2 linked regions of the Homo sapiens genome follow. The protein of the gene in region 1 purifies or fractionates together with the protein of each later gene. This does not show direct contact. Each region holds a gene or a part of one and is shown on either strand. Other genes may lie near its edges.

Evidence for each region.
Region 2: the proteins of CDKL2 (region 1) and NOC2L purify together in Homo sapiens (affinity purification with mass spectrometry; one large-scale study listed by BioGRID and IntAct). This does not show direct contact.

Annotation. Positions count from the first base shown.
Region 1 is NC_000004.12:75,596,029-75,599,528, forward strand, and holds part of CDKL2 (cyclin-dependent kinase-like 2), read right to left. Parts: intron 2,185-3,500; coding exon 2,049-2,184; intron 1,209-2,048; coding exon 907-1,208; intron 313-906; coding exon 219-312; coding exon of another isoform or gene 215-218; exon of another isoform or gene 139-214; intron 1-138.
Region 2 is NC_000001.11:949,257-952,756, forward strand, and holds part of NOC2L (nucleolar complex protein 2 homolog), read right to left. Parts: intron 3,345-3,500; coding exon 3,156-3,344; intron 2,884-3,155; coding exon 2,744-2,883; intron 1,983-2,743; coding exon 1,871-1,982; intron 1-1,870.

The DNA.
Region 1 (3,500 bases):
GAAGAAAGGAAGGAAGGAGTTTTTAGACTCATAAAACTTAAACTTTCAGAATTTCACGTTTATGACTATGATGGGTTGGGATAATATATGCACAATTAAGGTTTCACTTTATGTGTATCCAAACAAAATTCTCAATACTTCACTATCATATTTAATTTTAATAAAAGTCTAGAGCTGACTGGTGTTTGCTCTTCTACTACTGAGAACTGCTTACTTACTAATGTGGTCACATTAATGTTATAAATGCCTGATGGGGAATGTCTGTTCGGTTTAACAAATGGAATAGAACACTTCTTAGTTTTCTCATCCACTCTGTAACGACAAAAAAAAATGTTTTTAAGTTAGAACCAGCAATAATTATTTTTTCAAGCACAAAACTAAATGACACAGCACCAACTAACAAGCAGTTTAACCAGAGTGTAATGTCTATTCTCAAATATACAATGCACATAAATCTGGTGAAACATTCTATTCTTTAACACTACCCTCATGCCTCCCAGCAGCCCCCAACTCCTACCAAATACATTACCCTCCTTTCAGCAAAATTCCCAAATGGAGCTTCCTTATACTACTATAGGCTCACAGTCACACCATGCAGCAGCAGCCACTCAAAAATTATCTCTTTTAGTATGACAACCTGCTTTCACATTATTAGACTATATAGCTGTAGATTCTCTTCACCTTAAGCAATAAAACCCTACTTTCTCAGGACTTTGGTGAATTGTTTTGATCAAATGCTAATAATCTTCATCACACAGCCAAAAAGTCTTTTGAAACAGCTACCTGACAAGAATGAATAGCATCCAGAATTCTGAGAATAAAAACAATGTGGATGAATTGACAAACCCTTGCAATTTGCAAATATGTCCTTAAACACTTTTTTGATCTTATTTTACTAATTCATACCTGTAACCCTGAATTGGTATAGTCTCAGTCCCCATTCCAGAATTAATGCTGGGAGCAACTGCAGAAAGATTGTGTGTAAGTGGGGGAATTGCCACGCTTGGATTCCTTGTGTGGTCCACGCTGACATTGCTGCAGTCTTTGAGGCTTGTTGAAGGCACTATTTTGTTGTGGCTTGTCCTACTGTCATGGAGACAGCTGGCATTTGAAGCTCTATTGCCTTTTTCAGCTTTTTCTCCATCAATTTTTGAGCCTTTTATTTTAAATAGTTTATAATCCTTAATTTTGGGATCAGCATTGGTATCCTGATCATTAACAAAAATATTAATAAGGTTAATGATCTGAAGAGAATGAAAATTTACCTCTTCTTATAAAGTACTTGTCAACTAGAGCAGAATATCATAAGTATCACCTTTTTGAAACTGTTTTCTTTATTCTTCCTAGGGGATTAAAATTAAAGCCAGATTCTTATTCAGATAGTTATTGGGAAAATACAAAAAGAATGGAAATGCAATTCACACAGCTCACTCAGACACACACACACACACATACACACACATCAGTGGAAAAACTCATGGAAGAGGAATCAAGAATTCCACTTTTGTTCTTACATATTCAGAGTCATGGAACACAAAACTGATAACTCTTTCTTCTTTTGGTGTACTTGATATAAGTGGATTGGTGGTGGATTTGAATTACCTTATCAAGAACAGATCCTGGGTAGTTCACCAGGAAAAGCAAACCTAAGTTAAGTATCCAAATCTCACTTTTCAAATTTTTACTTCATATAAATTTCTACAGACAATATTTTTCACTCATATCCTTTAAGAAAGATAAGTGGGGTGAGGGTTGTTTGTTCCATGTGTCTGTGTGTATATGTGTTCATGAAAACACATATCTAGATGTTCTTGGATGAATGTGATTTAAGCACTGTTGCACAGTCTGGCACATAACAGGTACTCAAAACATGATATGTTAAGTTTTCTAAACAGGTAATATCTACTGAGAAGATACATTTTTACAACTAAACTAAAAGTTAACAATTTGCTCACTGCTCAGAAAACTTTTTTCAAAATCATATTTTTTCTCAAAAAATTTAAAAAAATAAGTATATTAAATCTAAAATGTGAAACATGAACATTTACCTGTACCACAAGTGTTTTTCTTTCTTCAACTAAGGAATCATCTTTTTCTTTTTCCTTCTTTCTGTTTTGGGATTTTTTAGATAAAGAAACATTTCTGGCATCTTTCTGTACTTTTAACTGTAGTTCTTGGGAAAACCTACATAAAAATATAATAAAATAAAATTGTAAGACATGGATAAACCTACAAAAAAATTGACTTTCAAGATATTTATTTTTTAAAAATTGAATGTTAAACTAGTCTATGTTATTAAAAATGAGAAAAATCCTGGCCTAGATCAGCAGTTTGGAAAGGGTGGTGTGTAGATCTTTGGGGATCCCTAAGAACATTCAGAAGGTTCACAAAGTCAATGCTATTATTTTAACATAAAGATGTTTGTCTTTCTCACCAGGTTAACATGAAAGCAGTGGTGGATAAAACTGCTGACACCTTACCAAGAAGAAAAGCAGCAAAACCAAAATGTACTAGCAGTCATTACTTTCTTGATAACCACACATTCTCAGTTGCTTTTTTTTTTTAAAAAAAAAAAAGGCAGTCTTGCTTAAGAATGTCTCTGATGAATCAGCAAAAAGGTATTGACTTCATTAAAGCCAAACTCTTAAACGCATCCTTTTTTTATGGTCTGTGTGACAAAATGAGAATATACGTAAAGCACCTCTGCTACAAACCGAAACACTATGGTTGTCTTAAGAAAAATGCTTGCATAATTATTTGTGATACAAACTAAACTAGATATTTTTACTTGAAAGAAAGACTGACAGAAAAACTATGGTTATTAAGACTTTGGGTCTATGGGAAACATTTTCTTTTAACAAATAAACAAAGTGATCTTGTCACTTCAAGGAAAACAGAAATAATTGTGTTAATGATAAAATTCAAAATTTTATGCAAAAATTACAATTCTGTTAAACTTGTATCCACCACTGTGAGCTTAGCAGCTTCCCAAAACTCACAAAACTTTTATGAGATAGAATGTAATTTTTGATGCTGTACAAGAAATATATCAATATTTTTAAGATCTGCTTAACTCAGCAAACTAATATTTTCCAAATGACTAAAGCATGATATTACAAAAGCATGCATGGGTAAAAGATCCATTAAAAAGGCAAGACAGACAAATGGATTTTAATTTAACAAAGGAAGAAAGACTCAATGATATGGTTTCACATTCCACAATGCAACCAGCCTTTAAGAAACTACCACTGGGCCAGGAACGGTGGCTCATGCCTGTAATCCCAGCACTTTAGGAGGCCCAGGTGGGCAGATCACCTGAGGTCAGGAGTTCAAGACCAGCCTGACCAACACAGAGAAACCCCATCTCTACTAAAAATATAAAATTAGCCAGTTGTGGTGGCACATGCCTGTAATCCCAGCTACTCGGGAGGCTGAGGCAAGAGAATCGCTTGAACCCAGGAGGTAGAGGTTGCAGTGAGCCAAGATTGCACCACTGCACT
Region 2 (3,500 bases), on another chromosome or scaffold:
TACATGCTGGGGCACCAGAGGACAGAAGCAGATTATGGGGGGCCCAAGGGTGGAGGCCCCAGCAAGACACCCCACTCAGCAGGGGTGGCTGCCAGACAGCTGAGCTCAGGTCCAGATGGGAAAACGCCCTGGTACTGATGAACCTCTGGGAGGACACTGCCCTTCTCTAGCCTGGGCCAAAAGTATGGGCAGGCGACTGGCTTCCTGTCCAGGCACCGGGGAAGGGCAGGCACGGCCTACAGCTGAGGGCTTTGTTTTAGCTTTTAGGGTTTGCTTTTTCCGGAGAGGAGAGGCCTGCATCCCTGCGTGAGAGGGGCCTACAGGGTGCGGCTGCAGTGAACCAGGGCAGTGCACAAGTGAAGAAACAGACACTGCAAGAGAGTAAGAAAGCACGTAGCCAAGGAGATTGGACAAGGGAAACAGACACAAAGCATGCCTGGAGCTGGGCAGCAGAGCTGGAGGCCCACAGACACAGGGGCCAGGCCAAGGGCTGGGCAATCAGAGACCACTGCTGGCTGCCATGGGAGTGAACATGGCTTCCTAAAGATGTTCAGCATCCCTGCCTCAGTGGAAGGGGAATCAGAACGTGCCTGGGGCTTCCATACCTTCTGGACCCAGCAACCTGGGGACCCAGCCCCAAGGACAGCTGTGACACGACTCTGGGCCTTCATGAGGCTGAGAACTCATTAGATAAACAGGGTGGAGATCGTGAATTCCTAAATTTACAGCGGGGTGGGGCCTAACCCACCCACTGAAAGTTGAAACTTCGGACTCCAATCTTTCCCTACCTGAGTGGCATGTGCACGTGCAAAGATGCATACACACAGGTACACACAGGCGCACACATGCACAGGCACACACGTAGACGCACGTACATGCACACAGGTGCACACACGCACAGGCACACACAAGCAGACGTGCATGCATGCACCCAAGTGTACAGGTACACGCACAGGTACACACGCACAGTACACACATGCAGATGCAAATGCATGCACACAAGTGCACACAGACACGTGTGTATGCACATAGGTGCACACAGGTACATAGATGCACGCAGACACACATGCATGCACACAGATGCACACATGCAAAGGTTCATGCATGCACAGGTAGACACATGCAGACGCAAATGCATGCACACAGGTGCACACACGCACAGGTACACACATGCAGACAGGTGCACACAGGTACACACGCATGTGCATGCATACAGGTACACACAGGTACACACTGGTATACAAAGACACATGCACAGGTGCACACACGCAAAGGTACACGCAAAGGTACACACATGCATACACACAGGTGTACACACGCACAGATGCACACACCTGCAGGCACACAGGCATTCATGGATACACGTGCATACACACATACAGATGCACACATGAACTGATATGCACACACACACAGATTTACAGACCCATGCACCCAGATGGTGCACACACACGCATGCATGCACAGACAAACGCACCCACCCAGATGTACACACATCCCCCATACAAATGCATACACATGCACACAACTGTCAGGGCAGGGCACTGTTCAGTGTACAGTTCAGCAATCAGACTTGGGTTTTGGCCCATCTCGCCTCCTGCCTACTCCAGTCTTGGGCAAGCACCTACAGGGTCAGGTCCCGGCATCCTCAAGCACAGCCCTAGCAGCAGCCGCCTTCATCCCCAGTGGTCCCACGTTCCCCAACACTGCCCCCAGCACACGGAGGAGCACTGTCCTCGTGACACCCGTGACAAGGAGGCGGCCAGGGCTCCGGGAAGTCGCCGGACAACTCAGCACAGACGCCCGGAGCAGCAGATGCTCCCTACAGGAGCAGGCAGAGGTGCCACACGCCCACCACAGCCTCACTCACCTCCAGGATGAAAGGCAGCACCGGGATGAAGGCCCCCGAGCTCCCCGAGAGCAGCGTCAGGGCACGGATGCAGTGCATTCGCAGCGGGTAGAAGCGGGCAGTGGGGATGAGCCTGGGGGTGGGAAGGCCGAGTGAGCAGAGGCCCCGGCTCTGGCAGCCCCTGCCCCTCCCCCTGCTGTCTTGGACCTCCTCCCCCACTCACCGACATCAGACCCCTAAAGCAGGACAAGGCACGTCTGAACCCCAGGGACCTGCACCCCTTGCCCAGCTATGGGGCTGCAGGTACCTTACCCAGCTTTCAGCTTTATTTCAACACGGTGGCAGGGGTCATCTGTTCCTGCCTGCTCTCCTCCCTGTTCCCGCCTTTCCTACTTCTTCCCTTGGACTTCCCACCTCCCTTCCCAGCCTTGAGTTTCTAAGGCTCAGCCAGACAGATGCCCCCTCCTGGCCAAAGAGGCCACAGTACTGCTCCCACCTTTTCCTGCTGCAGCCCCTACCGTGCCTGGACCCTCCTAAGCGCTCACACCCAAAATGCAGTTCACTGCATCAGATGTGCTCCACCCAAGAACCCCACGTAATGAACCAAACTCACTGCAAACTGCACACAAGCCCCCAGAACACACGCTGGGTGGCACCCGAGGCGGCTAAACCGCTGTTGGAGGAGCTCATGTCACAGGTGCCCACCAGCCCTAGCTCTCCAGAATCCAGAGCATCTCCCCGTAGCAGGTACAGGGACCCCAGCCCTTCCTCAGGGACGGCCAGGACACAGACTCAGGCCCCAAGGCCCTGAACGCCAGAGGCACCGCCCACACAGTCCCAGCAAATTTGCTTCTCCTGACCCTCCCGCACAACCCTGCCCACCCCACAACTCACTTGATACAGCCAATGATGACTTGGGCAAGGGGGTAGACCAAGGGCTGGAGGGCTTCGCTGGGGCCCGCAGTGCTCAGGACCCGGCACCACAGGAAGAGGCAGTGCACATACTGCCAGTTGTACACAGACTGGTATGTTTCCTGGTCAGAGAGAACCACGTCAGCTACTGGCCAGGCTGACAAGTCAGGCTGATGCACGTTCCTCCTGGGCCGGCACAGGAATCATTTCCTCATCTTGCACACGGGGTCTCAACCCATCCACCCTTCCCCCACCTGCAAGGACCGACTGCACCAGGGTGCTGGGCTGTCTCCAGACAGGGGCTTCGGGGAGGCCCCAGGCCCTGCCTTGGGTCGGGCACCTGGGCTGCCCCACCCCATGCCCAGCATGAGCCTGGAAGGGCCCCACCACACACCTTCTTGCGAGTGGTCATGGCGTTGCGCAGGTGTATGGCGAGCTGGCGGATGTAGAGGAAGGCGTGCTGGTAGGCCACACCCGGCTCCAGGGCCAGCAGCTCCGTCAAGGTCCACTGCATGAAACTGATGAAGGGGAGGGCACCAGGCGAGGTGAACTTGCAGTTCCTCACATACGTGATGTACATTTGCTGCGGAGAGACCCGGGTCAGAGCCACCTGGGATCAGGGCCATGCACCTCCACCGCCCACTCCAGGGCCCCTGTGAACACCTGGGCCTTTCCCTCAGAGCTGGGCCTCGAGGAAGAGCCGTAGCCCCTTGCACAGCCCCCACCCCCAAGTGCCCAC